Linked DNA regions of Homo sapiens: region 2 is linked to region 1. The links come from fine-mapping of genetic effects on gene expression. Tissue or cell type: whole blood. Region 1 holds a variant in brackets; the other region holds the start of a gene. All regions are shown on one strand. Distances are from middle to middle.

Region 1 (2,756 bases):
GTTAAACTCCTAGACTCAAGCAGTCCTCCCACCTTTGGCCTCCGAAAGTGCTAGGATTACAGGTGTGAGCAACTACACTGTCTTTTAATTCTCTTGACAGAGTGTTTTGCAAAGCAGAAATTTTTTTTATTTTAATGAAATCCAGCCTAATTAATTGTAGGCCAGTCACGGTGGCTCAAACCTATAATCCCAACACTTTGGTTGGCTGAGGTGGGCGGATCACCTGAGGTCAGGAGTTTGAGACCAGCCTGGCCAACCTGGCGAAACCCCGTTCCTACTAAAAACAGAAAAATTAGCCGGGCATGGTAGCATGCACCCATAGTCACAGCTACATGGGAGGCTGAGGCATGAGAATCACTTGAACATGGGAGGCGGGGGTTGCAGTGAGCCGAGATCGCGCCACTGCACTCCAGCCTGAGCAACAGAGTGAGACTTGATCTCCAAAAATAAGTAAGTAAATAAACAAATAAATAAATAAATAAATGTCATACCCAAGGTAATCTAAGTTTTCTTTTATGTTATCCTTATAGGAGTTTTATAGTTTTGTGTTTTACATTTAGGTCTGTGACCCATTTTGACTTTATTTTTGTGACGGCTGTAAGGTCTTTGTTTAGATTGATTTTTTTTTTTTTAGTGTGGCTGTCCAATTGTTCCCTCACCATTTGTTGAAAAGACTATCTTTTCTCCATTGTATTTCCTTTGTCAAAGATCAGTTGTCTATTTGTGGGCTCTCTGTTCTGTCCCATTGGACTATTTGTGTCATCTTCTGCCAGTACCACACTTTTTCCCCCCACACCTCTTATGAGCACTGTTACCATACTGTTTTAATTACTCCAGCTTTTGTGGTAAGTCTTGATGTCAGGTAATATCAGTACTCTGGTTTTATTCTTCAGTATTGTGTTGGCTGTTCTGGATCTTTTGCCTTTTCATTAAAACTTTAGAATCAGTTTTGTTGATGCAGCAGGTCCTCATTTGTAAATGGGGAAAAAAATCTGTGGGCTGAGGCTGTCTTTTGGAAAACACTTCCTGGGTCGTGAGTCCTTGATTTCATAGGTTGCTTATATTACTACAAAGGAACCTTAAACCAACTGTGTCCTTCCTTTTCCTTATTGCAGTTGGAGGACAACAGCACACCTGAACCAAAGGAAAATGGGGAGGAAGGCTGTCATCAAAATGGTCTTGCCCTCCCTGTAGTGGAAGAAGGGGAGGTTCTCTCACACTCTCTAGAAGCAGAGCACAGGTAAGTGAGGAGGACATCACAGGGCATGCAGTGTCTGACCTTTAAGGACCTTGAACATACTGGAGAAGATATCTCAGATAGATAGGTCCCACATGCAGAGAGAAGTGGCCCAGTCATAACTTGTTCTCTGTGTATGCCCCAGGTTGGCCTGTTGCTCATCAAGCATTCTCTCTCAAA[C/T]TCAGCCATCTTTTCCACAATCTACTCTCCAATACTTTAATACTTTTAACTTCAGGCCGGGCGCAGTGGCTCATGCCTGTAATCCCAGCACTTTGGGAGGCTGAGGTGGGTGGATCAGTCAAGGTCAAGAGTTTGAGACCAGCTTGGCCAACATGGCGAAACCCTGTCTCTACCAAAAATACAAAAAGTAGCTGGGCATGGTAGTGTGCGCCTGTAATTCCAGCTACTAGGGAGGCTGGGACGGGAGAATGGCTTGAACCCGGGAGGCGGAGGTTGCAGTGAGCTGAGATTGTACCACTGCACTTCAGCCTGGGTGACAGAGTGAGACTCCATCCCAAAAAAAAAAAAAAGCCAGACTGCAAGTGCTCTCTTTCTTCCTTACACTGTCTTGGTTTTGCTTCTACTGTCTCTTCTTTAGCTCTTCCTCTCTCAACTGTGAAGAGCCTCCATTTATTTACAGCACCCAGGTAGCCACAATTAAAGCTTGTCCCACAGGGAGGAAAACAAAATTCCTTCTTTAACATCCATTGCCCCTGGGCAGAAAACTTTTCTGTGAAAAGTGGTGGGCTGTTCACTTAGGCTTAGTGATGTTGTATTCTCTTTACCTGTCCTTCTGCGTCCACCAGGTTATTGAAAGCTATGGGTTGGCAGGAATATCCTGAAAATGATGAGAATTGCCTTCCCCTCACAGAGGATGAGCTCAAAGAGTTCCACATGAAGACAGAGCAGGTATGTTGTAAACCTTCTTCCTAGAGACCAGTTAGTAACCAGGAGAATAAGGAGTCAAGACAGTTCTTGCCCTGAGGGAGCAAGTTTAATGTGAGAGAAAGATCGGGTGGGGGGGGGGGGGATTACCTTAGTAGAAATGTAGTGGGGCCCCTAAATCTGCCTGGGAAATAAGGATCCCCAGTGTTATATACAAAAACCAAGTGTCAGTGATTAGCAGATTCCAAAAAATAGTATGCTCTTTCATCCTAACAGCTCTAACTCCTTATCAGAACCACAAGGCTGTGTTCCAGAGCTATGGTCTGAGCTCTTGGTCTTTAAGGAAGCAGGTTCACCTTCCTCTGCTTCCTGATCTGCACTGTAGTTTCCTGGTCCTCTGGCCAGAGCTAAGAAGCTAAATAGCTTGTGTCAGTTTATCCAGCAGTTGCTTGGATTCTTTCTCTGAATAAAACACTGCTAGATCTTAGGGTGAACAAGACAAATGGGGTTTCTATAAAAATCCTTGAACTTCTGGTGGCCTGTATTTACAGCACAATTGGCCAAGTCCTTAAAAGGGGCATGGCACAAGCTGATGTGAGACCTTGCCACTTAGAACTCTGTTAGAAATAAGGAC
Region 2 (2,756 bases), 120 kb before region 1:
AAAACCATGACTCTCTTACAAATATAAAAAAAAAGTATCAAATATTTTATTTATCTCATTAACTTATAAGGGAGCCAGTAAGATATTTAGGAATGTAGCATGAATTTGCTAAGAATCAGGAATGTTTAAATGAATTTGCTGAGAAGGGTAAAAATGGCTTAATATGCTACAGGTCAATAAAACAATGTTTTGGTGTATCTTTTCTACAGACGGGCAAGAATTATTTTAAGTACTACCAGTTTTCTGGTGAAATACTTTAGTCAATAGAAAGTCAGAGCTCCCTATGGATGCAAATCCGTCCAGCCTTACACTGAAAGGGCACACAGAATTCTCTTTTCCTCATTTCCAAGTCTTTGACAATGTTTGCTGACAATAGGTCCCTGTTAGCAGTTTTTGGTAATGAAGTAGAAAAGAAGAAATAAAAATTTAGTGCACTGCGGGTCGTAAGTGTAAACATAGTTTTGTGAAGATTTTGTTTCAGGCCAGGCACAGTGGCTCACACCTCCCAGCACTTTGGGAGGCCGAGGCGGGCGGATCACTCGAGCCCAGGAGTTGGAGACCAGCCTGGTCAACATGGCGAAATCTTGTCTCTACTAAAAATACAAAAAATTAGCCTGGCGGTGGTGGCACAGGCCTGTAGTCCCAGCTACTCAGGAGGCTGAGGTGGGAGGACTACCAGAGCCCAGGAAGTCGAGGCTGCAGTGAGCCGAGATGGCACCACTGCACTCCAGCCTGGGCGACAAAGCCAGGCCCTGTCTCATAAAAAGAGAAAGAAATACACTTTGGGAGGCCGAGTCGGGCGGATCACCTGAGGTGGGGAGTTTGAGACCAGCCTGACCAACATGGAGAAACTCAGTCTGTACTAAAAATACAAAATTAGCCGGGCATGGTGGCGCATGCCTGCAATCCCAGCTACTTGAGAGGCTGAGGCAGGAGAATCGCTTGAACCCAGGAGGCGGAGGTTGCGGTGAGCCGAGATCCGGCCATTGCATTCATTCTAGCCTGGGCAACAAGAGCGAAATTCCGTCTCAAAAAATAAAAAATAAAAATAAAAATAAAGAAATGAGATTTTATGTTAGATATATACTTCTATATATATACTCACAAGTATGTGGTATTGAGTTTGATGTAAAATATTTTTGTTCACCGTAGGCTGGGATCAAAACAGTTTGAAAGCCACTAATGTGACACATGAGGGTCAACAGTGAAAAAAACTGGACTTTTGAGTTCTTCCTTCCCCAAAATAAGTATCCCTTCAGTGCCAGGCTCAGTCATGCACTCAGAAAACGATTCGAGAGAACAGTAGAGAAGGACCGTGCCAGGTGTTCGGCTCGTCTCTGCTTAACTGAGATCCGCGGCCTTCTTGGGACACCACAAGAATCAGAGTGCAAGCGGAATGGAAAGGGCGAGCCAGCCGGCCCCAGCAGGCAGAAGCAGAGGCTTGCAGCTAAGCTGTTGATCCTTGGGGAAGCAAGCCCAAGCCCTGGGCCCCATCAGTGGGCACTGAGAGGCGCCAGCGGCCCAGTCTCCCGCGAGCGGAAGAACCTCGCGCACGCGCAGTGAAAACCCAGGGCCCGCGAAGCGTCCGAAGTCCCTTCCCACCGCCCGGCTTCGCCTCCAGTTCTCGGGGAACTGTACGGCCCAGTCACTCCCGCCTCGTCACCCCCGCCAGGTTTCCCCCGCCCTCTCCGGCCGGGGCTGGTCGCGACTGCGCGCGCAGGGCCTGAGCGGGCGCCGGAGGGAAGGGGAAGCGGCGGGTAAGGAGGGCCTGCGTTCGGGCGCGTCTGTGACGGGGTTGGGAACTTCCTCTTCTACTCCCTCCGGCTTTCCGGACCCCTGAGGACTGGAGTGAGAGAAGCCTCTAGAACTGTGTATTTCCTTGTCTTTCCTTCTGCCGCCGCAGGCCTTCCTCCGACAGTCTAAGTGTCGCCCTCCCCAGACCTTCTCGTCCGGACCGCTCCTGCCTCCCCCGCCCCAACTGGGGAATCCTGAGGCTGTGTCCCCAGTCCCTCTGTTGTCGCCTCGTTTGTCTGAGATCCCTTCCCTGACCTTTAGGTAGCGCAGGAACGATTATTAGCTTTTAGTGTAGCAGCAGTTTAGGGCTAGCTCTCTAGGCCGGGCCCCCAACTCAAGCACAAAGAACCACGGGTGTTTTGACACTTGTTCCGGGGATTCTTTCTGACACCCCTTTGCTGAAGCAGTTTCCACATGTTCCCAGCAGTGAATTCAAAGCCAGCAAACATAGGTCCGCTTTAGTTCCTCTGGGCATTTCTACCGTTTCCTAATAATCTGCTTTTTTTTTTGAGACAGTCTCGCCCCTTCTCCTAGGCTGGAATGCAGTGGTGCGATCACAACTCACTGCAGCCTCGACTTCTCAGGCTCTAGCGATCCTCTCACCTCAGCCTCCCAAGTAGCCGGAAGTACAGGCTTGCCCCATCACAGCCAGCTAATGTTAAAACAATTTTTTTTGCGGCGGGGGGCTCGCTGTATTGCCCAGGCTGGTCTTGAACTCTAGGACTCAAGCGATCCTCCCTGGCCGGGCGCGGTGGCTCACGCCTGTAATCCCAGCACTTTGGGAGGCCGAGGCGGGCGGATCACGAGGTCAGGAGATCGAGACCATCCTGGCTAACACGGTGAAACCCCGTCTCTACTAAAAATGCAAAAAATTAGCCGGGCGTGGTGGCGGGCGCCTGTAGTCCCAGCTGCTCGGGAGGCTGAGGCAGGAGAATGGCGTGAACCCGGGAGGCGGAGCTTGC

The links. PIP is the estimated chance that this variant, and not a neighbour inherited with it, causes the effect.
Region 2: it holds the start of IPP, and the variant in region 1 is fine-mapped to the expression of IPP in whole blood (INTERVAL, PIP 0.98).

Annotation. Positions count from the first base shown.
Region 1 is chr1:45,628,966-45,631,721 of GRCh38, reverse strand. It overlaps GPBP1L1 (GC-rich promoter binding protein 1 like 1), which reads left to right. Exons shown (of 13, transcript NM_021639.5): 11 at 1,116-1,240; 12 at 2,044-2,146. Among named protein-coding and RNA genes, the nearest start is that of CCDC17, 6.3 kb to the right of the region's middle. The variant C/T (reference allele first, on the strand shown) is at 1,418.
Region 2 is chr1:45,749,598-45,752,353 of GRCh38, reverse strand. It overlaps IPP (intracisternal A particle-promoted polypeptide), which reads left to right and starts at 1,701. Exons shown (of 9, transcript NM_005897.3): 1 at 1,701-1,757. LOC105378693 (a long non-coding RNA gene) reads right to left here and starts at 1,405. Exons shown (of 3, transcript XR_947290.2): 1 at 1,106-1,405. RefSeq lists a silencer at 1,591-1,860.